Linked DNA regions of Homo sapiens. The protein of the gene in region 1 interacts with the protein of each later gene in a pairwise test. Each region holds a gene or a part of one and is shown on either strand. Other genes may lie near its edges.

Region 1 (7,670 bases):
CCACAAGCCGGAGGAACTGGACGAGCACGCGCTGGTGGAGCTGGAGTTGCACCGCGGCAGCTCCATGGAAATCAATCTGGGGGAGAAGGACACTGCATCCCAGATCGAGGCCGGTCAGTGTGGCCTCGCCAGGCCGTGGGCACCCGCAGGGCAATAAGCTGGCCAGGGACTCAATTTCTGGAGCTGTAAAATGGGGGGAAGCTGATGGGATCCAAGTTTCTAGGATTCTCTGGGAGAGGCGCCCGCGCCAATCTTTCGCCCTTTAAATCCGCCAGGCATTCTTGGAGCGCCCCCTCCCGGGCAGGCGTTGTAACAGGCCTTTCGGTCGTGACGCGCAGAGTCCGGGGAAGGACGCACCAAATAAATTGCGCAAAGACCCCGTGGTAGGACCTGCGGGGTTTTTTTGTTTTGTTTGTTTTGTTTTGTTTTGTTTTTGAGACAGGATCTCACTCTGTCGCCCAGGCTGGATGGAGTGCAGTGGTGCGATTATAGCTCACTGCAGTTCAAGTGATCCTCCCGCCTCCCACTTTTTTTTTTTTTTTTTTTTTTGAGACGGAGTCTCGCTGTGTCGCCCAGACTGGAGTGCAATGGCACGATCTCTGCTCGCTGCAACCTCCGCCTCCCGAGTAGCTGGGATTACAGGCGCGCGCCACCACGTGCGGCTAATTTTTGTATTTTTAGTAGAGACGGAGTTTCACCATGTTGGCCAGGCTGGTCTCGAACTCCTGACCTCAAGTGATCCGCCGGCCTCGGCCTCCCAAAGTGCTGGAATTACAGGCTTGAGTCACTGCGCCCGGCCTTTGTTTTTTAGAGATGACGTCCTGCTTTGTCACCCAGGCTGGAGTGCAGTGTTGTGATCATAGCTCACTACAGCCTCAAACTCCTAGGCTCAAGGTATCCTCCAACCTCAGCCACCCCCACCACCCCGAGCTGGGAGGACAGGCCGGCACCATCCTGCTCAGCTAATTTTTTATTTTTTGTAGAGAAAATTTCGACATGTTGCCCCAGCTGGTCTCAAACTCCTGGGCTCAAGTGATCCTCCTGCTTCGGCTTCCCAAAGTATTGGGATTACAAGTGTGAGCCACCATGCCCGGCGAGACCTGTGTTTTTAATGGAATCATCCCACCAGTTGCAAGAGTTAACTCCTTGTCTTATGATTTGCGCTGGTTGAGGAGGTGTACGTCTTTCCATTAGTCAGTTGCTGGTTACAATTTCTAAGCCCCTACTACGTGCTGGGCACTGTCTGGCACCCCCTCAAACTACTTCATCAGAGAGTAAGAACCAATAACAGTATAACAATGGTTACATATTGAGCACTTGCTGTGTGCCAGGCACGGGGCTTCCCCTGGATTGTCACCTTCAAACTTCACAACCTCCATAAAGAGCTATTTATTTTTTATTTATTTATTTTTATTATATTTTTTGAGACGGGGTCTCACTCTGTCGCCCAGGCTGGAGTGCAGTGGTGCCATCTCGGCTCACTGCAAGCTCTGCCTCCCAGGTTCACACCATTCTCCTGCCTCAGCCTCTGGAGTGGCTGGGACTACAGGCGCCTGCCAGCACGCCCGGCTAATTTTTTGTATTTTTAGTAGAGACAGCGTTTCACCTTGTTAGCCAGGATGGTCTCAATCTCCTGACCTCGTGATCCGCCCACCTCGGCCTCCCAAAGTGCTGGGATTACAGGCGTGAGCCAACCGCGCTCGGCTATTTATTTTTGAGTCAGATTCTCACTCTGTTGCCCATGCTGGAGTGCAATGGTGCGATCTTGGCTCACTGCAACTTCCGCCTCCCCGGTTCAAGCAATTCTCCTGCCTCAGCCTCCTGAGTAGCTGGGATTACAGGTGCCTGCCACTATGCCTGGCTAATTTTTGTATTTTTAGTAGAGACGGTGTTTCACCATATTGGCCAGGCTGGTCTTGAACTCCTGATCTTGTGATCTGCCCACCTTGGCCTCCCGAAGTGCCTGGATTACAGGCGTGAGCCACCACTTGGCCAAGAGCCAAGAGCTGTTCTTTTTTTTTTTTTTTTTTTTAGTTTTTTTTTGAGACAGAGTCTCACTTCTTCACCCAGGCTGGAGTGCAGATGTACGATCTCGGCTCAGTGCAAGCTCCGCCTCCCTGGTTCAAGTGATTCTCCTGCCTCAGCCTCCCGAGTAGCTGGGATTACAGGCACTTGCCAGCAAGCCCGGCTAATTTTTGTATTTTTAGTAGAGACGGGGGTTTCACCATGTTGGCCAGGTTGGTCTCGAACTCCTGACCTTGTGATCCGCCCACATTGGCCTCCCAAAGTGCTAGGATTACAGGCATGAGCCACCGTGCCCGGCCAAGAGCTGTTCTTATTACCCCATTTTACTGATGAAGAACTTGAGGGTCAGAGAGTGTCAGTCACTGGTCCTAAGTGTCACACTGTGGGGCAGTCATTACTGGAACCATGTGGGTGGGGCTCTAAAGCCCAGGGTTGTAACCTCTGTCCCATGCTGACCCCAAGGCTGCACCAGGAGCTGGTCTCTGAAGGCCATTCCCTCTCACAAGGTGCCTACCCATCTCCTGTGCTCCAGGGAAGGCCCAGGAGTCTGCGGATGACTAACCCTTTTTTCTCTTCTCCCAGAAAAGTCTTCCTCAATGTCATCACTCAATATTGCGAAGCACATGCCCCATCGAGCCTACTGGGCAGAGCAGCAGAGCAGGGTTGGAGGGGCTGGGGAGACTGGGCGTTTCGGTGGGGTAGGGGATAGGCAAATTGGGGGTTGATAGGATATGAAAGTTGGGGGTGGTTGGCAGGGTGGAGGGGCAGGCAGGCTGGTTGGGGGTTTGGGGGCCACAGGGAGGAGGTGGGGGCATTTCAGCTGTGGGCAGAGATGAAGTACCTGGACGCCTAAGCCTCTTGCTGCTTCTCCAGCTGCCACTGCCCCTGATGGAACTCATGGAGAATGAAGCTCTGGAAATCCTCACCAAAGCCCTCCGGAGTAAGCTCCCCGCCAACCCCCAAGAACTCCCACGACAGATTCTGGTGGATTTTGCAGGGCTGGGGCCCAGGGGGGTGGGGTTTCAGGGTGCCTTATGTCTTGTCAGATGCCCTTGGCACTCACAAGTATTCCAAGGGCCCCATAAAAGTTAAAAGCTGAGGGACTGGGCACAGGAAGACCCAGTGGGGGACATGTGGTGATGGGCAGAGGCCTGGGCTCCAGGCTGAGTGCAGCCCCTCTCCAGCTGAGGGAGGCTTTTCTGTGGCTGTTTCTCCACCTGCACAGTGGGATGACCGCCTTGGTGTGGCCTCGACTGCCTCTGGTTGGGGAGTTGTGAGGAGCCTTTGGACAGTGGATTATGTGGGTGAACTTTTGCTGCTGTGGTAGGAAAGCCCAGCGGTGATAAAGGGCCAGCTGATGGCTTAGAGTGGGTGGCTGGTCCAGAAGGTGGGCAAACTGCTCGCTACCACCGCCCTAGTTCAGGCCTGCAACCTCTTCCCTAGCCTTGACCTCATCCATCCTCCACCTTAACACTCAGCACCCTTAGAGATGCAAAGTTCCCCAGGCTAACACAGACCTGAGTGCCCTGCGCTACTGCTACCTCGAATCATCTGCGGTTCCTCGAATCACACATGCGGCGCCCCCTGGTGGGGAGACCTTTCGGTTGCTCACTGCCCTGAGCCGAGCTCTGCCCTCCTCCTAGGCTACCAGTTAGGGATCGGCAGGGACCACTTCCTGACTAAGGAGCTGCAGCGATACATCGAAGGGCTCAAGAAGCGCCGGAGCAAGAGGCTGTACGTGAATTAAAAACGCCACCTTGGGCTCGAGCAGCGACCCGAACCAGCCCCGTGCCAGCCCGGTCCCCAGACCCAAGCCTGACCCCATCCGAGTGGAATTTGAGTCCTAAAGAAATAAAAGAGTCGATGCATGGTCCGTGAGTCAGTGCAGGACAGCCCGCGTGAGGCGGACGCACGTGGCCCCGCCCTTCCCCGTGACCTTCATTCGGTCACCGCAGTGACCTTCATTCGGTCACCGCAGTGACCTTGAGCTTTCTCCGTCCGGGCCCTATCGGCCCTACCTTCCGGGACTCGCAATCCAGGACTTATTGCATGTTTTAAGTCGGCTTCACCCACCCCGAGTTCCGCAGCTCTGTGGGGCTACTGGGTCTACGGTTCGAGTGCTCAGTTGGTGTCGCTTTGGGGGAAGGGGGTAGGGGGAACGGGGCAGCACCTCCCTCCTCGCGACGGCGCGCTAGGCTCCGCCCCTCAAGCATAGGTAGCAGGTCCAGCCTCTCCGCTCGTCCCGCCCTTGCGTTTTCATCTGTAAGTGGTCTCTTGGCTCCGCGACTGCAGCCTGCACCGCCTCGCCCACTCCTCTCGCGCGCAGCAAGCCCCGCCTCCTCCGTTACGAAAGAGCGCTTCTGGCCCCACTTGCTCTCGGCTCTATTGTCCCCGCCCTCCGCGTCTCCGGCCCCGCCCCTCCCAGGGGCCGCGTACGCATGTGCGCCGCAGTGGCTCGGCGGGCTGCGGGGCGGGACCTGCACGAAGGCCCGCCCACTGGCGCTGCCGGCTCCGCCCCGACTCGTCCGGGCGCGCAGGCGCCGCCCGCCCCGCTGGTCTGATTAGCATAGGACCCCGGGCCCCGCCCCCTGCTTTGCATGCGCACGGCCGGCCCCACCCCCGCTGTCAGCTGGAGGAAGCGGAGTAGGAAGCGGCCGCGATGTCCTTTTGTGTCCTACAAGCAGCCGGCGGCGCCGCCGAGTGAGGGGACGCGGCGCGGTGGGGCGGCGCGGCCCGAGGAGGCGGCGGAGGAGGGGCCGCCCGCGGCCCCCGGCTCACTCCGGCACTCCGGGCCGCTCGGCCCCCATGCCTGCCCGACCGCGCTGCCGGAGCCCCAGGTCCGGGGGCGGAGGGGAGCGCTGCCGCGGGGGTGGGCGGGCGGGGCGCGGGGGCCATGTGCGAGCGCGGCAGGGAGGCGGGCGGGGCGGGCTGCAGGCGGGGTCCGACTCTGGGGCCAGTCCGGGCCACGGTTGGGACCCAGTCGAGGGTCGGACTGGTCAGGGTTCAGGCGGGATCCGGCGTCCGAGTCCTGGTGGGCCGGCCTGGGGCAGGATCTGGCTCTGGCTGCGGGTCCTGACTCGGGTCAGGGTTGGGCCTCCGATCCAGCCCGCTCCGGGGCAGGGTTCAATCCCGCATTTGCCGAAGTCCCTGGGGCTGGCCGGGGTGGAAGACGGGGAGGGCTCTATGTCTGGGAAGGGGCTCTGAAGACCACGTGGGGGCGCTCGAAGGGGCCTGGGGCCACCCTCCTCTCTGGGTCAAAGGTCATCGCACCGGCAGGGGAGAACTTCCTCCTCCTTGGCTCTCCCCACTTACTTCCTGATAACCTGGTAGAGGTCTCCCGCGGGCGGGGAGGGGGAGGCGTAGCAACTTTAGGCAACTTCCCAAAGGTGTGCGCAGGTTGGGGGCGGGACGCGGCGCCCCGGGAGGTGGCGGCCTCTGCGACAGCGGGAGTATAAGAGTGGACCTGCAGGCTGGTCGCGAGGAGGTGGAGCGGCGCCCGCCGTGTGCCTGGGACCGGCATGCTGGGGCAGGAGGGCAGCCGCGTGTCAGGTGTGAAAAGCTCTGGAGGTGTTTTCATGAGTCCGTGCCTGTGCGTGTGGATGTGGGGAGACCTAGTGAGAGTGTGTGTGATCATGAGCCTTGACTGAGTTCGTGGATGGGGTGTGCGCTCCAGGAGAAGTGTGTGAGCACAAGTGTGAGCAGGAGTGAGCACGGGTTTGGGAAGGCCGGTGCAAGTGTGAAAGCCCTCAGCAGAGAGCGAGCCTGCGTGGGCTTGTGGGGCTCCTGAGCACCCCGGTGAGTGGAGTGTGTGAACTCGGTGTGAGCACGTCCACTGGCCTTGGGTCTGCTCTCCAATGCAGAATACCCAGATGAGGGCAGGGTCTCAGAGGTCCCCCCAACATCTGGAGAAAACTGGGAAGTATCCTGCTCCTGGCTAGGGATTCCAGGTGGGGTTGAAGGTTGCCTGGGGGCTACGGTTACCCTGCTCCCTGGCCTGGGTGGGAGTAGGGGCTTTCTAAGCCTCCCCCAGGTTCCCAAGGGGGAGACCTGCTGTCAGTTACTGGCCCTGAAGACTCTGTTTCCATGGCAACAGCTAGGAGGGGGCAGTGTTCCTGGGCAGTCCTTCCTTGGACTCTGCCCCCCTTCTTCCCCACTTGCTGGGCTTGGAAGCCTGGCCCTAGGCCCGAGGTTGGGCAACCCGTGTGGCAGGGTGTCTCCCATCCCCCATACCAGTGCTTTCCTGCGAACCTATGGGTCTCTCCGTGCAGGTGACCAGCGCCATGTCCAGCCAGGTGGTGGGCATTGAGCCTCTCTACATCAAGGCAGAGCCGGCCAGCCCTGACAGTCCAAAGGGTTCCTCGGAGACAGAGACCGAGCCTCCTGTGGCCCTGGCCCCTGGTCCAGCTCCCACTCGCTGCCTCCCAGGCCACAAGGAAGAGGAGGATGGGGAGGGGGCTGGGCCTGGCGAGCAGGGCGGTGGGAAGCTGGTGCTCAGCTCCCTGCCCAAGCGCCTCTGCCTGGTCTGTGGGGACGTGGCCTCCGGCTACCACTATGGTGTGGCATCCTGTGAGGCCTGCAAAGCCTTCTTCAAGAGGACCATCCAGGGTGAGCCCCCAGCCCACTCCCCTGTCCTTTGCCCTGCACCCTCTGGGTACACTGCTGGGTGCAATAGGCCCCCTGATGGCTGTGGCACCGCTTGAGGCTAACAATCTGGTGTTTCCAGTCCCTCTACCTCCCAGAGACACTCTTTCCCTGAGAAGTATGGTAAAAGCACCGGGTGTGCTGATGCATTGCAGTGGATGTGAGTGAGTTCAGGGTACCACCTGGGTACTCTAGGCCCAGCACCTTCTACAGTGGCTCTGAAAGAGTCCAAGGCAGCCTCTGTCTGTTCCTAAGCTTTGTTCTTGTTTCTGGCAGCTTCTGACCTCTCCCCAGCATAGAACATGTCCCCTTTTTGTTAATTTTCCCAAAGCAGCACCAACACAAGGCAGATTTTAATTTTTTTTTTTTTGAGACAGAGTCTCACTCTGTTGTTCAGGCTAGAGTGCAGTGGCACAATCTCTGCTCACTGCAACCTTTGCCCCTGGGTTCAAGAGATTCTCCTGCCTCAGCCTCCTGAGTAGCTGAGACTGCAGGTGTGCACCACCACGCCCAGCTAATTTTTGTATTTTTAGTAGAGACGACGTTTCACCATGTCGGCCAGGCTGGTCTGGAATTCCTGACCACAAATGATCCACCTGCCTCGGCCTCCCAAAACAAGGCAGATTTTTATCAGTACTTGAGAGGGGCTACATCATAGTTTAGCACCCAACTTTAAAAAGACTAACAGGCAAGGCCGGACACAGTTGCTCACACCTGTAATCCCAGCACTTTGGGAGGCCAAGGTGGGCGGATCACCTGAGGTCAGGAGATCGAGACCAGCCTGGCCAGGGTGGTGAAACCGCATCTCTACTAAAAATGCAAAAAATTAGCTGGGCATGGTGGCTCGCGCCTGTAATCTCAGCTACTTGCTACTTGAGAGGCTGAGGCAGGAGAATTGCTTGAACCCAGGAGGCAGAGGTTGCAGTGAGCCAAGATCACACCACTGTACTCCAGCCTGGGTGACAGAGCGAGATTCCATCTCAAAAAAAAAAAAAAAAGGCCGG
Region 2 (7,021 bases), on another chromosome or scaffold:
AGGTGGGTAGATCACGAGATCAGGAGATCAAAACCATCCTGGCTAACACAGTGAAACCCCATCTCTACTAAAAATTCAAAAATTTAGCCAGACATGGTGGCACTCGCCTGTAGTCCCAGCTACCCAGGAGGCTGAGGCAGGAGAATCGCTTGAAGGAAGCGGAGGTTGCAGTGAGCTGAGATTGTACCGCTGCACTCCAGTCTGGGCAACAGAGCGAGACTCCATCTCAAAAGAAAAAAAAAAAAGAATACAGGAGGATGTGCAGAGGTTATATGCAAATACTACACCATTTTATATCAAGGACTTGAGCATCCATGGATTTTGATATCCTCAGGGGTCCTGGAACCAATCCCTCTCAGATACCTAGGGACAACTATATTATGTGCCTGTGCTGTATGTGTAACATCTTCTCAAAAGTTACATTGTCAAGCTCATTCCTCCTGATCATAATTTCTCAGTTCTTATGATGGGATATGGTTTTTATAGTGATAAGATGTGAAATGTATTAAACTGTGAAAATGTAATCAGTGATTTCTGGGGGGGTTGTATGTGTGTTTACCATTCTATCACTGGATCAAAATATATGCCTTTGAACTAAGGTGAGACATCCATAGCCTGGTCCTCTGTTGCCAATGGCAAGATAGAGTTAGTAAAATATTCTAAGATTCACAGTGGGGTGGTTCTTTAATTTATTTTGATTTTCATGACTGTGTATACGAAGGATAGAGATGCTTTTTAGGAATGCCTAGGTTTCTGACTTTTAGTTGATGTGTTAAATTATACATTCGAGCAATCTGGTATTGGGTAACTGTCAAATTTTGATACTTACAGAAGTAGGCAGATGAGTAGTTATTTGGTTTTGTGGTAGCCCAAGTTACTGAGTGAGCTGCTAGGATAATTCTTTGGCTACTAAGTTCCAGGCCATACTTGAGAGTCCAGGCCCACATTTAGATTTTTTATTTTGAAGGATTAAGCCATGCAGTAGTGGTAGCTATGGGTTACAGCGAGAAACCCCTACCTCAATATCTTTTATGGCTATGTTTCCAGTGACTTCAATGAGCCTTCTAGCCTTACTAGTACTTATCTAATTATTTTATCTTTTAAAAAAATATTTTAGCCAACATTTAATTCAAAAGAAAGGTTGAAATGTAGCCTACTCATGGAAAATATTGTCTATAATTCTATTTCTTTAGCATACTGAGTCTCCTGCATCTTGATGCTATATTTAGATATAATCAATGTTCTACAATGGGAAAACTTAGTAGAACATTGGGCATGTGTGTGTGTGTGTGTGTGTGTGTGTGTATGTGTGTGTGTGTGTGCATGTGTGTCTCAATGTATATTTAAATAAAATTTGCCATTCCAGCCATTTTTTAAGTATTCAGTTCAGTGGCATTAATTATATTAACAGTGTTGTGCAGCCATCACCACTATTTCCCCATTCCTCCTCCCTCAGCTTCCAGCCCCTGGTAACCTCTATTTTACTTTCTATCTCTCTGAATTTGCCCATTGTAGATATTTTATGTAAGTGGAATCATACAGTACCTGTCTGTTTGTGTCTGGCTTATTTCACTTAGCATGATGTTTTCAGGGTTCATCCATGTTTTCGCATGCTTCATTCCTTTTTACGGCTAAAGAAAATTGTGTGTGTGTGTGTGTGTGTGTGTGTGTGTGTGTGTGTGTGTGTATGTACATACTGCATTTTGTTTATGCATCTGTTGATAGACATTTAGGTTGTTTCCTCTTCTTGGCTATTGTGAATAATGCTGCAACACACTGGGCATTTTGATCTGTGGTATTTGGCGGTCTTTGGCATATTTTTAAATAAAGAAGCATTGTTTATATGTTTCTTTGCTATAAAATATGAAATATTTTCATTGTCTTAATAAAAGACAGAAGCAAAGCCTCTACTTATATGTAATGAAAAGATAAAATTAAATGTAGTGAGACTATGTCATCAAACTTTATCGTGCCTCCTAACCGCTTTATCAGTATGAGAGTATTTCCCCAGAGAAGGCTGGACATATCATCATCAGCCCCCAAACCATCCTGTTTATAAAGCATGGCAGGCAATTATGCTTCCCCCAACCCCAGAAAACTAAAAGAAAAACTTTTGGTTACTCTGTAATCTTTGAAAAGAAAAAATTAATAAGGTATTGCTTTATAAGATTTAATCTTAGATGTTCTGAAGAATACTTTTTCTTCTTTTTTTAAGAATTAAGTTTTAACTCAGGTAATTTTTACTACACCTTTTTTTTTCTTCAAAAGTCACATAAGTCACTTTTTTTTTTTTTTTTTTTGAGATAGAGTCTCTGCTCTGTCGCCCAGGCTGGAGTGCAGTGGCACTATCTCGGCTCACTGCAACCTCCACCTCCTGGGTTCAAGTGATTCTTCTGCCTCAGCCTCCCTAGTAGCTGGAACTACAGGCGCCCGCCACCACCCCTGGCTAATTTTTTTGTATTTTTAGTAGAGATGGGGTTTCACCATGTTAACTAGGCTGGTCTCGAACTCCTGACTTCAGGTGATCCACCCGCCTCGGCCTCCAAAAGTGCTGGGATTACAGGCATGAGGCACCACGCCTGGCCAAGTCACTTCTTATAGATGGTTTCACAGAATATTTCCTTCACTTTTTGGAGACTGTTTAGCTTTCCAAGTATTTTCAATCATAACTCATATTTGGTGGTTCATATGCTGAAATATTACAATTACACAAAGATGATTATTTTACCTTGTTACTGTACACATAGATTGCTTCTTCTTATTTTTATTTTTTCGCTGGTTATTGTCTCTTGATTAATACATAAAGATCTATGCAACTTGGCCTGGTGCAGTGGCTCACGCCTGTAATCCCAGCACTTTGGGAGGCCGAGGTGGGCTGATCACTTGAGGTCAGGAGTTCAAGACTAGCCTAGCCAACATGGCAAAAACCCATTTCTACTAAAAATATAAAAATTAGCCGGATGTGGTGGCGTGCACCTGTTGTCCCAGCAACTTAGAAGGCTGAGGCAGAAGAATCTCTTGAATTCAGGAGGCAGTTACAGTGAGCCAAGATCACACCACTGCACTCCAGCCTGGGCGACAGAGTTAGACTCTGTCTCAAAAGAAAATGAAAAAGAAAAATCTGTGCAACTTGTGTAGTAATTTCATTTATACAGTCTTCAGTCATGGGTTGTCTACAAACTTCATCAATAAACAAATGAGCTTGCCCTTCAGGGTTGCCCTTCTGGGGCCAAATGTGGGCTCTGAGACAGCCACATTCTGGTAACCCGCCGGATGATTTGGGTGTTTTAGCTGGCGGAGGCAGTGACCTCAGACTCTGGACGGTGAACGGGGATCTCGTTGGACATGTCCACTGCAGGGAGATCATCTGTTCCGTGGCTTTCTCCAACCAGCCTGAGGGAGTATCTATCAATGTAATCGCTGGGGGATTAGAAAATGGAATTGTAAGGTAAGAGGAATTTGGATTCTCTTTTTTTGATTTCATTCATAAGGACACAGGAGTTTCAGAAATTAATTTTTAATATCTAGGCATATTAATATTCAGTATTTAGAGATTTAAACTCACCTTGGGGTGTAGGTTCTTTAGTTATTCCTGTTTTATTTCTAAATAATAAAGATAGCTTTAGCACAGTTTTGAAGTTTTATGTTAACTATAAAAGATTAACAGTATGGAAGTATACAAAGTTAAAAGTTCTCTTATTCCCACATCTACCCCCTGCAAACTCCCTAGAGGGAACTACTGTTAATTGTTTGTTACATTTCCTTCCACATGATTTTTAACAAATAAACAAATATAGAGGGCTTTTTAGGGAGAGTAATTTTAGTTTGCATAATTAGATGATTTTTTTCCCCTCTAGGTTATGGAGCACATGGGACTTAAAGCCTGTGAGAGAAATTACATTTCCCAAATCAAATAAGCCCATCATCAGGTAAGATCTTCTCCCCCTCTTATGCTTCAGAATACAATTTGTGATTGTATTTTTCGTAGAGAGGTATTTAAGCACACAGACTTAAAGAAATGTGCAATTGAAGTCATCATGAAAAGCCAACCACTTAACACACAGCGGGTTGTCCGTGACCCAGCAGCAAGAGAGACCACACTCCTTGTCTTCATGGAGCTTAAAATCCGAGTCAGTGACTCAGAGTCTAGTGGAAAGGCATGCTTGTAGTGTGTCTCTGGAATCATAGAGACTGTATTTTTTCCTTTCATATTTGACAAGACCATAATGGTGATTGATAGCTGCAGGGGTGCTTGACAAAATAGATAAATAATCAGTTACTCTTTGCTTAGTTAACAAATTTGACTTTAAATAATTAGAAATAAAGTGATTCAAATTTTACTTTATTAAATTAAATGTATTTTCAGTGTACTAAATTTAAAGTTTAAGGAACCTAAATTAATTACTAATGTTACATTTTTTTCCTTTTCTCTTTTAGGGAAATAATATATAGCCATAAAATACTTATTTATCTTTATAAGGAGAAAATATAGTACTGTTATATTTTTAAAAGTTTTGTACACCCAAATATTTGTTGTTTATGTAATAAAGCATAAACAAGGAGGCAAAAGAAGATATGCAAAGAATAGAATGTACTGAGCTTTGTGATCCTGATTTTATTCTATATCACCGCATTTATGAGCATCTCAACTTGTCAGCAGAGTGACTATGTTAGAATTACAGTCAAAACCAATGAGTTGTAGGCAGTCATTTAGTTTATGTCTCTCTGCGCCACTGAAGATAACTTCTTTACACTAACCTCAGTATGATGACCAATATGCTAATACACTTTTAAGAAATATAATGTACAAATGGGAATTTTTTTTTTTTTACAGCCTTACATTTTCTTGTGATGGCCACCATTTGTACACAGCAAACAGTGATGGGACCGTGATTGCCTGGTGTCGGAAGGACCAGCAGCGCTTGAAACAGCCAATGTTCTATTCCTTCCTTAGCAGCTATGCAGCCGGGTGAATGCGAATGAACTTCACGTTCTCCAAAGCACTTTAACTCCAAACTAGATTTGTTGACTTCACCAGTTTTAGGAGGTTGAACCTAAAGAAATGGATGACTGGACAAACCATCCAAATAATGATAAAGTCTATTCATCTGCACAAAATTCTGAAGAGTCACATGATCCTAAGAGGAAAGTTCTGTTCTATTTTAGTGATAATCTGGAAGATTGTGTCAATATGCACTAGCCAACAAGTTTTAAGCCTCGCATGGTACATTAAAATGATATTCTTAAAATTTTTTCCCACCAAGGTATTCCAAAGAAAATATTAAGGTCTCCCCTTTTTCTATGATTCCAAAAGGACCAGTAGAATTTAAATTGGTTGGTTGATTGTTTATATAAAACACACTAAAATTATATTTTAAAAGTTTACTGCCATGAAATACTCCTCCCACCACACACACATGCTCCAAAAGAGGAAAGAAAAAAAGATAATTTTTAGGACTTGATAATTGCTTTCTTTGAGAAGCAAATTATTCAGTAGGTGCCTCTGTACCAAATATTTTATGGAATATCTAAATACTAAAATAAACTATGAATGAATCTCAAAATTAGGCAGTTTTTGCCAGTTGCTTTCTTAGCTCAAAGGAGAACCAGAATTTTTTTGACAGCCACAAACAAGAATACAGGTATCTTGGATTTCAGACACATTCTGTTTCTTCATAAAAATTTTACTTAAAATCTGTAACGCTAGATATTGACTATCCTTAGTTGAGTCACTGAGGTTTAAACACAATGGTAAGTCTTAAAGTCTGCTATTTACAGAGCATTGAATCTGTACCAATTTGCAATAGAAAGCCTTCAGTATGCAAGAAGTTTGCATGGGTATTAAGAACACAGCCTAAATAAGGCATTTGATCTAATCTGCAGGAAGAATTTTCTTCCCCAAAACAGAATTATAAAAGCTTACTTTAAACAGGAGGCAGAATAATTCTTTTAGGAAACCATTTCATTCTGTTTCTACTAACCTATACCATCTGAGAATTCTAGGAAGAATAATAAAATCTCGTGTATTCCACAGCAAACTTACATACCATAAAGACAGAATTCCTAAACATCTTGGAGCCGTCTGTCTCTCCCATATGATGGCTGTCTGTATATTTTTACTTGGGGTGCTGCTTTATTGGCTTTGAAAACACTGTCAGATAAGCTCAGTAATATGTTACCATGGGATAAAAATATGTATCCCTGCCTAAGAATAACTTGTGCATTTGTTATGGAAATTTAATTCATATGGTGTTTACAGTACTACTTTTGTAACTTCCAGACTTTCTAAAACATTCTGCTTAAAAACCATATAAAATATAATTCCAAAGTCTCTGCTGTCAAGATAGATTCGAGAGAAAGCACGTGGCCATGTATGCTTTAACCTTAAACTGCATACACATGTAGTGATACCTAGGCTGCATTTAGATCACCGTGTGCTCAGGCCAGGTGTGAATCCTGAGGTCCATGGAGGTGCAGAGATGAGATTACTCCTATTCACGTTGAAGTGATTTGCTTTGTTAACAAAAAATTGCAGCTATTGTCTAGCTTTCATTTTTTTACTGAGAACTTTAAATTAGTCCCCTATTAGAATAGGGTTGCTACTCATCTTTTTTTAAAAACCGAATTTCATCATTTATCTAAAGAGAAAATATGCAGAATAACTGGTCTTGTTAAGAGTGCAATATTATATTTTTATGTAAAAATAAAAATTAATTTGGGGGGATTATTTATTCAGCATGAAACCTAATATGTATATGTTTGAAATACTTCATAATGTGCATGTTGTAGCAAACATTTCTGTAAATTATCACAAGCTCTGTTACCTTTATATACACTGCCTCTTCAATTTGGAAATAAATTTCATAAAAATAGATGTAAACACCTCTTCTTTAAGCTATTTAAATATTATGAGCAGATCTCAAATCGATGGCTTTCTGTGTAACCCACATAGGTTCTGTCTTTAGCTCCACTATGCATTTATATCACTAGAAAAAGATAACTTTCTTTTTTTTTTTTTTTT
Region 3 (7,386 bases), on another chromosome or scaffold:
GGGCACACTTACCTATCCAAAACCTGACTGGCACCTTATCCTATGGTATAAAAACCTCTGGGCTTGAAACAAAGGAGCACTTCTAAATTTTGGTACCAGAACCCAAAGTATGGCTTCTGTCTTTTTTTGGCTTACACATATTTCTATTAAGCGTGAACTGTGGCATGATAAATGAGTATTTTGTTCCATGATGGAATGTTCTAAATTGAAATATAGATTCCTTCAGTTATAGGAAATGATGACAATTTTCCATTAATTTTTTCAGTTCTTCCATTCCTCAATGATCGCCAAAGAACATATTCCCCCGAGGAGGAGTTTGAGAGTTTTGTTCAAACTCACAAAAAACTAAGACAGCTCAACTGTCTATTGGAGATCCTCTCCATGGGAGGTTTGGGCAGAAGGACAGTGATCCAGATGGAGGTCGGAGATGAGAAAGAGGAGCAAAGAAAGTAATAAAAGCATGGGTAAATATTTTTTTAATGACTATAAAAAGTAGTAAAATAATGATGCTTATTGAGATTAAAAGATACATTTAATACACTAGACAGTAATAGCATATTTGTCAAAAGAAGGGTTAATGGTGTTAAAGCAGTCTAAGGTCCTTGAGTTATCCAGAAGACAATCATTTTGATTAATTTTATATTTTAGACACTGTATGTTTTAATTTATTTAAAATAATAAAACTAAAGAGTAAAACATCTAAATTAGAGGGGAAAGGTGAAATAAAAAACATTTAGTAAATTTCACAGAAGGCAGGAAAAGGTTTTAAAAAGGAACATCTGAAACCCAAATTAAGATAGGTTTAAATCCATCATGAAGGTTATATGATAGTGGAGGAAACAAACAGCTAACGAGTCAAGTGAATATACATGTAATTTTACATAGCAATATATACTATGCAGAAAAACCCAACAGGGTAAAGCATTAGATGCTGCCTAGGAGGAGACTATTTTTAGGTAAGGGAAGACCTAAGATAGAAAGAGGAGGTAAGTAAGACTCCAAGGGTTTTTATCGTGAGCAATAACAGGTTGAGAAGGGAAGAGGAGCCAAGGAGACTGAGGAGACAGCCAGTGAAATGGGAGGAAGTGTTTCAAGAAGGATGGTATGATCAACTGTGAAATTAAGAATGCTTGGCTTATTTACTACAAACATCTCTCCCAGACCTGGAAACACAGCCAGTAGCAAGGTCAGTATTAAGTTACCACAAGGCCAGGCACAGTGGCTGATGCCTGTAATCCTAGCACTTGGGCAGGCCAAGAAAGGCGGATTGCTTGAGCCCAGGAGTTCAAGAGACCCGCCATGGGCAACATGGTGAAATTGCATCTCTACAAAATGTACGAAAAATTAGCCAGGCGTGGTTGCACGTGCCTGTAGTCCCAGCTATCTGGAAGGCTGGGGTGGAAGGACCACCTGTACTCCAGCCTTGGTGACAGAGTAAGACCTTGTCTCAACATCAACAACTGCAAAAGAGTTACCATAGACTCAACAGGGGACATATAAATCTACAGCGCACAGTGGCTAAACGCAAGGGTTCTGAGGCCAGACTATCTGAATTGTGGTTTAACCTCCTTCTAGTTGTGATCTGTGTGATCTTGGGTAAGTTATTTAATCACTCTGTGCTTTGGTATCCTCATCTGTAAAATGGGGATAAAGAATTTGTTTCCTCTAGTTGTCATGATTAAACGAGTTTTTTTTTTTGAGACAGGGTCTCACTCTGTTGCCCAGACTGGAATGCAGTGGCATGATAATAACTGTCTGCAGCCTCCCAACTCCTGTGCTCAAGTGATCCTCCCACCTCTGCCTCCTGAGTAGCTAGGGCTACATGTGCCTGCCACCCACCATGCCTGGCTAATTTTGTATATGTTTTGTAGAGATGGGGTCTGCCTACGTTGCCCAGGCTGGTCTCGAACTCCTGAGCTGAAGCAATCCTCCCACCTTGACCTCCCAAAGTGCTGGGATTACAGGTGTGAGCCACTGCACCCAGCCAATTTTTTTTTTTTTTTTTTTTTTGCGACGTCGTTTTGCTCTTGTTGCCCAGGCTGGAGTGCAATGGCGCAATCTCAGCTCACCGCAACTTCCGCCTCCCGAGTTCAAGCGATTCTCCTGCCTCAGCCTCCCGAGTAGCTGGGATTACATGAATGTGCCATCACATGCGGCTAATTTTGTAGTTTTAGTAGAGACGGGGTTTCTCCATGTTGGTCAGGCTGGTCTCGAACTCCCGACCTCAGGTGATCCGCCCGCCTCAGCCTCCCAAAGTGCTGGGATTATAGGTGTGAGCCACCACGCCTGGCCTCGAGTTAATATTTTTTAAAGCACTTAGAATACACCTGACATAAAGTAGTAACAATGTGTATCTTTGTTAAAATGAGAGAGAAATCCCCAAAATGGCAAAGATAGGAAAAACAACCATGCTTTTCAAGTACTGACTTGCATTTTCAGAAGGTTCAAATTGGCACTAGACTTAGGTAATTGAATTAATCAGCATGACTGATAGGATAACTATAGTCTGATAAAGAAAACACCATGAAGGGCAGGGTGCGGTGGCTCACGCCTGTAATCCCAGCACTTTGGGAGGCCGAGGTGGGCGGATCACCTGAGGTCGGGAGTTCGAGACCAGCCTGACCAACATGGAGAAACCCCATCTCTACTAAAAATACAAAATTAGCCAGGCGTGGTGGCGCATGCCTGTAATTCCAGCTACTTGGAAGGCTGAGGAGGAGAATTGCTTGAACCTGGGAGGAGGTTGGGGTGAGCCGAGATCGAGCCATTGCACTCCAGCAAGGCTCTGTCTCAAAAAAAAAAACAAAAACTATGAAGTAAATTATGGTTGAAACATGTTTAGTTCTTAACTGCAGTATCTTGCATTTAAGGTGTATGTTCATAACAAGTTATATTTCTATTGTCATAAAGAACGTTCTATTAAATGCTTACTGGCTCAGAATCCTATTACTTTTTGCCAGTTAGATTATGGCCGTTTCTCTTTTAGTCTAAAATAAACTCAGCTGAAAAGTAACAATAAACACTTTATGTATACAGATTAACAACAAAAAATAGAAGGTAACCTGCTTGGTGTTAGATATTGTAATAAGCCAAACAAGTAACTTTTGTGTAAACACTGAAGTAAGTGCTTTGAAGAATTCATAAAAGTTTATGACTCTAATTCATGTGAGAGATAAAATGCATATACATCAGAAGATTACACAATGAAAGTATATGGCTAACGACTAATGAATGATATAGTAAGTGTTAAAAGAGATAAGATGGGGCAGAGGTCACTACTGATTGTAAAAAGTTTCATGAATGAAGCGAGACTTTTATCTGGGTCTAGGAAAATGAAGTCGTTACAATCATTACATCTTAGTACAAGCAAGGAATCAAATAGTATGTCTCTCATGTGAACATTTTAAGTAAATAACTGGAGAAAGTACTTCAACAAAATAAGGGAGCAAAATAATGTTGGCTCAAAATGAGGTCGAAAAGTTGCAGGGCTCGGATCGTGTTGCTAAAGGCATAAATTTGGGAGTCCTCAAGCTGTAGCTAATAGTTAACGTCCAGAGAAGGTAGTGTATATTCCATAGCCTCATGCAAAGGAATTCCAACTACGAAGACGAACCAGTTAAGGAGACCGAAAAGGGGGGGCCTGTATGGAAAGGCATAGCAACGAATGTAAAATTTCCCCAATAATACTCTAAAACTGCCCCACAGCTTTTTTAATTTTGAAAATTCAAAACCATTCAATTCAGCTCGCAGATTTTTGTGAGAAATAAGGAGATACTTGCAGCTCAGAAAAAATTATTAACAACTATCTAGAAAGTTACTGCTTTATCCCCCACTGTAAACTATACTACCACGACCCGGGATCCTTGTTCGACTCCTAGCCAAGGGGTTCCCACTGCGTTTCTGTTGGGTTATCCCAAACCTGTGATAGGATAGTAGCGCCCTCCCTGCCTCCGGTCGAATAAACACTACAACGTCTGACACTCGGTGCTGAAAGGAAATCGGGCGCGGTGTCTTGCCCACAGCTTGGGGAGCGGCCCCGGGCGCAATAACTGTCACCGGCGCCGAGATGCGGTTCCGGCGCTTAGGGCGCCGCTAAACTCAGAGCCCGGGAGTCATGGCTGCGGGCGGTGCCGCCCCAGGTAAATCAGTCCAGGAGCAGGGCCCGGGCCTGGCGTACACTCTCGGAAAAATGGGGGCCAGAGCAAACAAGAAGAGCGAAAGCAAGAGGGCTAGGCAGCCAGAGGCGGCAGCAAGACTCAAGACGCCAACGGCGCCGTCTTCCTGGGGCCCCAGGGCCTGCGCCATCCCTGGGCTGCCGGGGCACCGCCTCTCCACGCCCCTCGTCCGGCGGCGGCTGCGACTGCTTCCGAGGTCATGTTCCCAGGACGGGCGCGTCTTCAGGGTGGAAGCCTGGCGCACGTCCGGAGGTGCCGAGGACCCAACCAGCCCAAACTCTGGGGGAAATGACTCCCCTCTGCCCTCGCCCCGCGCTCTGCTACCATTTCCTTACGTCTCTGCTTCGCTCAGCGATGCAAAACGCGCGAGGCGCACGGCAGAGGGCCGAAGCCGCGGTACTCTCCGGGCCAGGCCCGCCCCTCGGCCGCGCCGCGCAGCACGGGATTCCCCGGCCGCTGTCCAGCGCTGGCCGCCTGAGCCAAGGCTGCCGCGGAGCCAGTACAGTCGGGGCCGCTGGCTGGAAGGGCGAGCTTCCTAAGGCGGGGGGAAGCCCGGCGCCGGGGCCGGGTAGGAAAGGCGGGGGAGGGGCTCCGGCCGTCTGGAAGGAATCCACGCGGCTTGAGGCTGTGGGGGAAGTAGGGTGGCGAGCGGTCCTTCTGCGCGCGGGGGGCGGGGGGGGTGGGGTGGTCCATTAGGGTCCCCTGGCGAGGGGGCGGCTTTCTAGTGTGTGAGGGCGACGCCCTAGAAGCTCCCCTTCAAAGTTGGCCCCACGCGCTGAATGTGGAAAGTTGACTGGGACCCAGTAGTTTCCCATCCCAAACCTGCTTTCCGAGAAGGGCTTCAAACCCAAAATGTGAATCCCGCCTCCCCTCTCAGCCAGAACTGTGGACTCGTCCCGGGGAGGGGCGGTGGGTGGGGCGGGGCTGGCGGGAAATTTCGGTTTTGGCGCGCTCCCTGCGGCGACGCTCATCGTGCGCTCTCCTCTTCCCCCGGTGGTCTCCTCGCTCGCCTTCTGGCTCTGCCATGCCCTGCTCTGAAGAGACACCCGCCATTTCACCCAGTAAGCGGGCCCGGCCTGCGGAGGTGGGCGGCATGCAGCTCCGCTTTGCCCGGCTCTCCGAGCACGCCACGGCCCCCACCCGGGGCTCCGCGCGCGCCGCGGGCTACGACCTGTACAGGTGAGCGGGGACCTGCCGGCGAGGAGGCTGGGAAGGGCCGGCCGTCCGCTGCCACAGCTAGAAACAGTCACCGGAGAGATCACAGGAACACACTAGCTATAAATAGGATTTCTGCCTTTTTCGTGTTTAAAATTTTAGCTTTCATCTTTGGCATAAATTAAATAGAGATTTGGGCAAAGACTGCAGAATAAGTAAAATAGCTATACGGTGTCTAGCAAGGCGTTACTTTGCAACGTTTATTGTGCCCTTCCTAAATAGAAGATAGAGAGGAAGGCCCATGGTGGCTTTCGAGTGGCCCGAGGGTGATGCTGTGCTCAATAGAAAAACCAAGGTGAGAGCCTAGATGTGAGCGTGAAAATACCTAAGAAGGATGAACGAAGATGCATCTGCCTTAAAAAGTTATTTTCTATACATTCATCCGGCCCAGGGCGGAATTTGAGAAGGCATCTGAAAACGAAAGGCAGAGCTGCCTGTAATCTACCACACTTTCATCTCTACAGCACGTTTTACCTGTACTAAAAACTTTCCGTATGCTGTTGTATTTAGTCCTCACAACAATCCTTAACTAGATAAGTGTTACTTTTTACACAGGCAGGAGTTTGTGAAGAGCTGAATTGATTTCCCCAGAGGCTTGAAGATGATATAATTTTTTATCCCGAATTTTGGGCTTTTTTTTTTTCATCTGACTACTGTGCCCAGTTCTTAGAACCATTAAGGTAGGAGAAAAGTAATGCTGAGAGGGAAGGAGATTTTATACTAAATCCCAAGCATTGGGATTTATTTTAAAGTATCTCAGATAATTCAAACATGAGAACTATTAGTCTAAGCACAGGAGAAGAGAAAGTAGTGCCTGATGATAGCAACAGAAAAAAAAGGAAAAGGAAAGTAGGTATGGACAATTGTAGCTGGAAAAACTACAGTCTCTTAATTTTGATGAATAAAAGTAGAGTGATATAGTTTGACTAGACCTTTCCAAAGTATATTTTGGAGCACTTTCTTGAGTCCTAGGGGAGTCCTTGATTTAAGATACCTTAAGTAGACTCCTAATAAACACAGGTGACTTTCTGTATACTGAAATTGACATGGAAATAATGGATCAGCAATAAATTAGGGCTTAACTGTTTAAAGAGGGATTTCAGTGAAAGAAGGGGTAGTACTGCTTTACCAGAGTTAATTAAGGTCTCCAAAGTAAACTTCCGGTTCTGCTCATTGTAAAATCTCTTAAATTTCTACCCAGGAGAGGGCCACAGTAATATCAAGAGTAGCAGCATTTGCTATGTGGACTTTAGAGGAATTCTGTTCCTAAGCAAGGTCCATCTCCAGGGGCCGTTCACGGTGATCAGCTGTCTCCCTCAGCCAGGAAATTCATAGCCTAAGCTTGGTAAACTACCAAGCCCTGCCTGACAGATACAACACAGTTCTTTATCTCTTATTTTGTCCACCCGTTTTTCTCCTTTCCTTCTGCATATTTTCCCTAATCACACAGATCATTGTGAGAATAAAATGGGTTAATATATGTAAACCAATTAGAACTGTTCCTGGCACACAGTAAAGGCTTAATCAATGATAGCTAGTATTATTAGTAGTATTTGGCCTTTTTTCTTTGTTCTTTCTTCATTTTTTTCCTTTTCAAACTATGGTTGTAAAGCATCCACCTTTTGAAAGTTTGCCTTTCTGCCCTTTCACGCTGATAAGTACCTCAGTTTCCAATAAACTTTTGTTCAGGGGCAAACATTTACAATGTTGACATCTCTTCACACCACCAAAAATATTCATGGAGAATTATTTTATCTAAAGCTGTCTTTTTAATAATAAAATAGCCACCTCTACCTTCTTCATAAACTTTTAAGATGAATTGGTAATTCATCATAGCAAGGTTGATTTTAGAAACTAAAGTTGCATTAATTCATTAAATACACTGAAAGTAATTTTGTATGCTTGGTCACAAAGAAAATATAAAAACAATTTTATAAATAGATTTGCAGTTATTTTCTTTCAATATTTTCTTAGTGCCTATGATTACACAATACCA
Region 4 (6,993 bases), on another chromosome or scaffold:
TAGAAAAGCACAGTTACCTTCTCATGTACTTGAGATTTTCTTTCTCCATCAAATTCATATCTAGGACATTTGGCACATGTCTGGGACAATGACAGGCTCATTCTACTTTATGAGATTATTTAACATATGACTTGAAAGAGTTTATGTACATACCTATTCTTTCTGGGCAAGGAGAAAGCATGCTTAAAAAGATAAGCTTTAACAACAGTAACACTTTCAAACTGACTTTGGAATTCTTGGCAGTTACACACCACTCATTGCTATCCAAAGCATACACCACACACACACAAACACACACACACACACACACACACACACACACACACACACACGACAGTTCTCTCTCTCTCTCTCTCTCTCTGCCAAGCACAGACCTGGGAGATAGGCATAAACTGGTAGGAAGCAAAGGAAAAGTCAGTCTCCCTCCACCTGCTGCCTAAAGTGGGGGTGCTTTGGGCTGACTGGCAGACAGAAGCCTGGGACACAGCCTCAGCAGTAGACTGCCAATATCCTTAAGAAAAATAAACAAACACATACCAACTTGCCCCCACCCCCCACCCCAAGAACTCACATGGCAGGGCTCAAAAGAACAACAGCCCAATTCCCATTAGCCCAGACAATCCTATTAACCAGGACAACCATAAATTCATAAACCTCTCCAACCCTCGAGCAAGCATTGTGGTCTAGAGCTGTACAGACACACACAGACACAGAGGAAATTTGCACCTGTCTTTCTTGACACAACACACCTGTCAGGCCCTGCCCATGCGCACTCTGCTAATAGATTTCTGCCTACCTAGGTTAGGAAAGGAAATGAGTTCTTTTTTTTTTCTTTTCTTTCTTTTTTTTTTTTTTTTTAAATAAGGGAGGGCATGAGTGGAAAAGAGAACAGGAGAAGGGAGTCTTCTAGCCTTGACTTTGCGAGGAGGCCACCCTGTGCTTCCTCTGTTTTTATAAGCTCAAGGAGACAGCACAGATCTTCTCGGAAAAATAAAAACAAGCAGGTGAGTTTCCAGCCTTCCCCCAGGCAGAGTAGCCTTCTGGGTTGCCAAGAACAGCAGTTTCACACTCCAACCTGCCTCCTTGAGCTATTTAAGACTAAGCACCACCCCTCCTTCTAGTTCTGTTCTCTGTCTGCCTGGAGGGCTCTCAATTTCCCAAGAAGCTGGGAAGGGGCCAGAGACCTGGGAGTCTGTGGAAAGCTACTTACTCCTCCTTTACCATCCCCACGCTCCATCACTCCACCAACCTTCAGCTTCAGCAGGGGGAGTAACGGGCTGGCACACCAGAAGAATCAACAACTTGCTAAACTGGACTTTGGGTGATGTCTCCCCCCGCCCACTGCGTCCCCCTCCTGATCTGCTCAGGCAAGATAGCAGCTCTTCCCTCCCTCTTCCCGCCCTCCTCACTAGTCTTCCCAGTAACAATTACTCTCACCTCTCCTGTCCTCCCTCCCCAGTCCTCCTAACTGGGGCAAAACGGTAGGTACCACCCAGACGAGACCAGACCGAAGCTGCCCAACACCATAGTCTGCCAGCGATGGCTGGGAGATTCATCGCCTCCCATTTCTGCTGCCCAAGAACCCCCTACTCTTACCCGGCCCGCGATCCTCCGGTCCTCCTCGTGCTGGTGTCCCAATCCCACCGCCACGCGACCCCCCGAGCCTCCCGGTGCCGCCTTACCCTACTCAACTTGACCCAGCCCTGGGTCCAGGAGCTCGGAAGAGGGGCGCCGCGCGCGTTTCCCGGGACCCATCACCGCTCCCCTCCAAGCCGGATTTCCACAATTCGGCTTCGACAGCGTTTTGAGACGAAAGTAACAGAGCGCCCCCCCACCTCCCTCTCTCCTCCTCCCAGTTCCCGGTCCTCTGCTGGGGTTAAAAAAGGAGAAGTGAAAGGTATGCAAATGACAAGCAAATTGGAAGAGCCGGGAAGAAAGGCAGCTATAATAAACAAGACAAAGAGAAAGGACAAGGGGACCGGCCCCGGAGTTTTAGCCTGGGGAGATCGGAAGGATGGGGTTTGGCGGAAAGCGGGGATCTCCACGAACAAAAAAGCGACCCGGTCCCTCTCGCGGTCCTCTCTCCTGAGAAGAGAGAGCAGGAGAAAGAAGGAAAGGGAGCAAACGCCTCCTCACACCCCAGAAACAGTACACAAAAGGTGACAAGATCAGCGACAAGTCCAGCAACATCAGCCTCCCCCCCATCGCCACCGCCACCCCCAGCCACCAGCAGGAAAGAGAAAGAAATAAAAGCCAAGAGGATCACTTACTCTTAGGAACTGGGAGGAGCGGAGCGCTGAGTTCCACGGAGGCTCCCGCTTAGAAACTGTTTAGAGGCTATTTTATTATGATTCATTTGAATAACACCATTTTCTCCTGGGGGGAATAATGTTTACACGGGTCTGAGTAATGGGAGGCTCTTTTCTTCCTTTCTCATTCAAGAACAAGACAGTGCAAGTGATTCTGGAAAAGGGGAGGGACTCACGAGGGGAAGAAGAAGATACTTACGCGGTGCAGGGAGCAGTGGGACCGAGCCTCTCTCTCTCTCTCTCTCTCTCTCTCTCTATCTCTCTCTCTCTCTTTTTTTTCCCCCGGCAGAGAGAGGAAAACACGCGAGTGCACACACGGTGATATCTTGCGGGTGATGAATATGATAATTGGACAAGGGACGGTGAGTCTGTGCGACAGCGAGCGAGCGAGCGGGGCGAGTGGGAGAGGGAGAGGGGAGAGAGAGGCGGGAGGGGAGGGGAGACGAGAGAAGAGGAGCAGGGGAGAGGCGAGGAGAGGGAAGAAGAGGAGAAGAAAAGAAGAGGAGCTAAGGGAAGAGGAGAGAGCAGGAGAGGAGGAGAGAGAAGAGCGGGAGGAGAGGAGAGAGCAGCAGAGGAGGAGAGAGGAGAAGGGTAAAGAAGAGAAGAGGAGCGAAGCGGAGAGGGAGCAGGCGGACCCGGCGAGAGCTCTTTTGCGCCGCTCTGCTTTCCCCGGCTGCAATGGTGTATTATTTCAGAGCGCTCCCTCAGCTGAGGGCTCCGCTCCACAACAAGATTTACTTTAAGACACAGCTGAAGGAAACAGGAAGACTGCACGTCACAGTCTATCTGACGTACCCGGCCCCAGCACCCAATCGCGAGGCGCCTTCGGATTCAAGGGGGGATAGCAAGGCAAGAGAACTTGGGAGGAAAAAAAAATATAAAAGGGGTGGGGGTGAGGGGCTGGGAAGAGAGGAGGGGAGAGGGGCCCTGCGCTCCCCCTCCCCGGCCTCCATCCCCGGCCCCCACCCCCACCCCCACCCTGCCACAGCTTCGGGACGACTGGATCGCCGCGCCTGGGCCGGAGCGAGCCATCTGCGGGCACTATGCAAAGCGGGAGACGGCGCGAGCGGCGCCCGGCTCACACTAGCTCTTCCAGGACGCAGGTCTTTTTTTTTTTTTTTCTTTTTCTTTTTTCATTTCCCAGATACAGCTGATCGAGTTCGCCGAGTGGCCGAGCGAGTGAGCGCTCCTCCGACTTGGGTGGAGGAAGGCACGGAAAAGTATACGGGAGAAAAAGTGGGGGTTTTAGGGGTGGGGGTGGCATAGGAGGAGGGAGGGGGGGATCTGCAAATCATTCCACTTTTTAAACGATCATAGGTAGTGTCAAGGATACGTGTCACCCTTGGTTCCTTTTAAAGGGGAGGTGGACAATAAAATACAGGTAGGTTTGGTATTAAAATAATAGGTGCCAGAGGTTTCACATCGGGTCCGCTGCATCTGTTATTAGACGAAGATCAACATTGGCTGAGTCCCAGTTTATCTCCAGTCCAAATTATCAGGAAGAGGAATATTTACCCTTGGTTACCTCTGACATTAGTTGGATTGTAGGTAAAGCAGCCTTTAAAAATATATATGTTGCAAACATCTGGCGATTACCCTTCACTAATTCACTCGCCCCAGAAAGACCAAAGATAGCTGTTCAATACAGGATTTACACAGTTTTGACGCCTGGGCAACAAACTTTAAAGTTTATTAGGCAAGAAATTTCAAACGCATAAATCGCAGGCTCTAAAATAAAGCCCTAGAAAATTTACTTTGGTTTGACATTTCTTGCTTGAAAAATAACCAGCAAAATTTCTTTAGATAATGTGGCTCTTAAAGATCTCCTTGGGCTTTGCAAGTTACAAATGCAAGCGAGCCTCAGCCGCAGCTAGAACGTCCCTTTCACCGGGCACAGTAAACGGCTTTTAATAAAGCAGCCGCGTTTATGACCTAAAGATCCTATAAAAGCTGGGACTTGCAAGAGCTGCGAAGCAGAAACATTCATACATAGTCTATTAGACACTCATTTTTGTAAGTAGGAGGAGGACAAGTAGTCTTCGTGTGTCCCTCAAATTTAATCAGATCAAAGGTTGAATCATGCTGTGTCGTGACAACAGGGTATTTATGAGGTGTGTTACAAGTACACTGGCCAAACACTACCAATGTCTTCTGCGACACACACACACACACACTCCTTCCTAGGGAATTTACAATTTCAGCCTCAAATTCACCAAACCGTAAAGAGGATATTAAGCCCTCCCTTTGAATAAGAATAGCGATGTTAGTATGTCCGAGTCTATCCCGGCAGGAAACTTTTGGCACGAATTTCAAACAGTGAAAAGGAGAAAAAAAATTAGGTCGGTCAGGTTAGGTGTCGGCGATAAGAAAAGAGATTGCGGGAGCATCCCCAGCCTTCTTCTTTCCCCTTTTGCCGCCCCCACACACTCCCCCCACGCGTCTATCACGGAAGCAACACAGAGGAGCGCACACGCACCACTCACACCTCCAACTATTGACTGTTGTATCAGGTGTTCTAACCGGGATGTGACAGTTGAGGCTGGGAGCAGAAATAATCAACATGCCCATTAGATACAGGACGGAATAATGCTTCTATTGGTTGGGTCCCTTCGAGGTAAGCGGGTGTATTGAGCGGGGAAACTTGGGATCTGAGAATGGATCAAAGCTACTTTCTTTCTTATTTTTCGTCCTACTAGTTTTCTTTAAGAATCTTGGTTTGTACATATAAGTTAGCGCCAGCCCACAAATAAACTGGTAGGAGTAAGGGCTATATACCTTTCCACACCTTAAAACCATCTGCTCAGTTTGACATTTAAAAGGGCGGAGAGCAGAGAAGGAGGAGGGGGGAGTAGGGGGAAGAAAGGAGTCAGGGACAGAGAAAAAGATTCAAACGCGAAAAAAATGGCTTGCACTTTAGCCCACAAGTTTGTGTCAATTGCACATAGCGCTTGAATGCACGTTTTGCACACACCACGCCCGGGAACTGGCGGCGGGAAAAGTTCCCTGAGAACCCCAGTAAGTCCTGTGTCACGCCGTGGGCAAAAGCAGGCCTGAGTCGAAGTCGGGGTAACCCGCTTGCCGAACAAGGAAGCTCTCCCACCCCCAGCCTCGGCGGCAGAGGCTCCCGGCTCGCGACGCTCTGCCGCGGCGGTTCGCAGCCCGCATTAGGGCGCAGGAGCGGCGACTTGAAATAGGAGCGCGCGCCACGCTAGGCGAGCGAGATCGGTTCGCAGCCCAGCTCCGTGAGCTGCCTCGGCGCAGCCCTGTCCCGTGTCCTGTCCTCTACTGTCGGGGAGGCGTACAGGCCAGGCTCCTGGCAACCTCTCTTGCTAGAGCTGCGGCATTCTCCTGGGTCTCGGGCTGCCCTGGACAAGACTTGAGGCCCGAGCCCCCTATCTCGGGCGACTCCCGCTTTGTTTTCTGATAGGGGAGAAGCCTGGAGACAAGGAGTCGCCTAGATATTGGCTCCATCTCTGAAACCAGCCGCCAAGCCTAGGGTTAAGACAACTCCTCCCTCCGCCCCACTTCCAACACAACCCCAGTAACTTAGAAGTTAACGCAAGTTCTGACCGGTCTTGTAACACACTCTATCCGTGCAGGTTGCATTTACTTATTTATCTGAAGGGTGATCTGTGTGTTCTTAGACAAACTCGCAGTTATCACCCATGCATCTGGTTCTGGGTTAAATACACTTCGCCTTGACATTTGCTCGGTGTATGCTCACGCCTCCTGTTCTTTCTTAAAGCTGTTAGGTGGGGGCAGGAGGGAAGACAGTGTGTATAAGTAATTTAAAACCTTACAAACAACTGTTATCAGATCCTAAACAAACCAATTCTGAGAATTACAACCAGATTCAGTTGAGAGGCAAAAGTGGACGTGGATTTTGGAAAAGGGTGCCTAAGGACTTCCAGGTCAGCCACCCACCGCTACCACCACCACCACCGCCACCACTACCACCATCACTATCAGCACCCTGAAGAAGGGAAGAGAGGAAAACCAACCCCAGGGTGCAGGCCTGCCTGCTGCAAGCTTTCTAGAGGCAAAACTGACTGACGGCCTCTCACTCTCATCTCCTGTGCTCAGTGTGACGCCAAGCCCAACCTGGATTTGTTCTGAATGGGGGGGAAGTGAAATGCCACAAGATCAGTAGCAAGTAGCAGCTGCAGCGTTTTCTCTCCTGGGAACCCCACTGCTTAGAAGCCTCCTGAGTGATGTTTGTTTAACCAACAGCTTTCAAAGTAAACAGAAGCCAATCACTCCAAAGAAGTTGAAATATAACCCTTACAAGAATTTGGATCCAGGGGTGCTGGCAGAAAGAAAGTAATTTTTAAAATGATAAAGAACCCACTCCCAAATAAGAGTCTGCCACATTGCTTTAAGGAGCGCAGAATTGTCATGAAAATATAATTTCATCGAAAGGGCTAATTACAATAAGTTGACCTCGAAGAAAATCACTCTTCGCCCACAAAGACACACCCGCGGGGATGAGGAGGTTGTCAGTGATTGAAGGGACACACTACTACTTGATTTTATGGAAGTGGGCGAAAACAATCAAAGGGAAGTACATTCCCTGCCCTGGAGTAGTGAAGTGTAGGCTGGGAGCTCTTCGCCGCCAACCCTGGCTTTGCCTCAGGCACCGAACTTTCCAATACCAAGATATTAACAGATGGTGGTGAGCACATGG

The links.
Region 2: the proteins of ESRRA (region 1) and LYST interact in a two-hybrid assay, tested with the Homo sapiens proteins (one study listed by BioGRID).
Region 3: the proteins of ESRRA (region 1) and DUT interact in a two-hybrid assay, tested with the Homo sapiens proteins (one study listed by BioGRID).
Region 4: the proteins of ESRRA (region 1) and PROX1 interact in a two-hybrid assay, tested with the Homo sapiens proteins (one study listed by BioGRID).

What each region holds. Positions count from the first base shown.
Region 1 is NC_000011.10:64,300,875-64,308,544, forward strand, and holds the start of ESRRA (steroid hormone receptor ERR1), read left to right. Parts: upstream 1-4,649; 5' UTR 4,650-4,862; intron 4,863-5,003; exon of another isoform or gene 5,004-6,275; coding exon of another isoform or gene 6,276-6,305; coding exon 6,306-6,630; intron 6,631-7,670. Other genes in the region: CATSPERZ (cation channel sperm-associated auxiliary subunit zeta), read left to right, coding at 1-113, 2,608-2,687, 2,899-2,965, 3,669-3,772. UniProt on the Homo sapiens protein: Binds to an ERR-alpha response element (ERRE) containing a single consensus half-site, 5'-TNAAGGTCA-3'. Can bind to the medium-chain acyl coenzyme A dehydrogenase (MCAD) response element NRRE-1 and may act as an important regulator of MCAD promoter.
Region 2 is NC_000001.11:235,660,892-235,667,912, reverse strand, and holds the end of LYST (lysosomal-trafficking regulator), read left to right. Parts: intron 1-3,291; coding exon 3,292-3,448; intron 3,449-3,857; coding exon 3,858-3,929; intron 3,930-4,834; coding exon 4,835-4,973; 3' UTR 4,974-6,872; downstream 6,873-7,021. UniProt on the Homo sapiens protein: Adapter protein that regulates and/or fission of intracellular vesicles such as lysosomes. Might regulate trafficking of effectors involved in exocytosis.
Region 3 is NC_000015.10:48,327,053-48,334,438, forward strand, and holds the start of DUT (deoxyuridine 5'-triphosphate nucleotidohydrolase, mitochondrial isoform 1 precursor), read left to right. Parts: upstream 1-4,376; 5' UTR 4,377-4,463; coding exon 4,464-4,743; exon of another isoform or gene 4,744-4,804; intron 4,805-5,144; exon of another isoform or gene 5,145-5,199; coding exon of another isoform or gene 5,200-5,215; coding exon 5,216-5,354; intron 5,355-7,364; coding exon 7,365-7,386. UniProt on the Homo sapiens protein: Catalyzes the cleavage of 2'-deoxyuridine 5'-triphosphate (dUTP) into 2'-deoxyuridine 5'-monophosphate (dUMP) and inorganic pyrophosphate and through its action efficiently prevents uracil misincorporation into DNA and at the same time provides dUMP, the substrate for de novo thymidylate biosynthesis.
Region 4 is NC_000001.11:213,983,999-213,990,991, reverse strand, and holds the start of PROX1 (prospero homeobox protein 1), read right to left. Parts: upstream 3,020-6,993; 5' UTR 2,509-3,019; intron 2,460-2,508; exon of another isoform or gene 2,271-2,459; intron 1,790-2,270; exon of another isoform or gene 1,683-1,789; intron 1,327-1,682; exon of another isoform or gene 18-1,326; intron 1-17. UniProt on the Homo sapiens protein: Transcription factor involved in developmental processes such as cell fate determination, gene transcriptional regulation and progenitor cell regulation in a number of organs.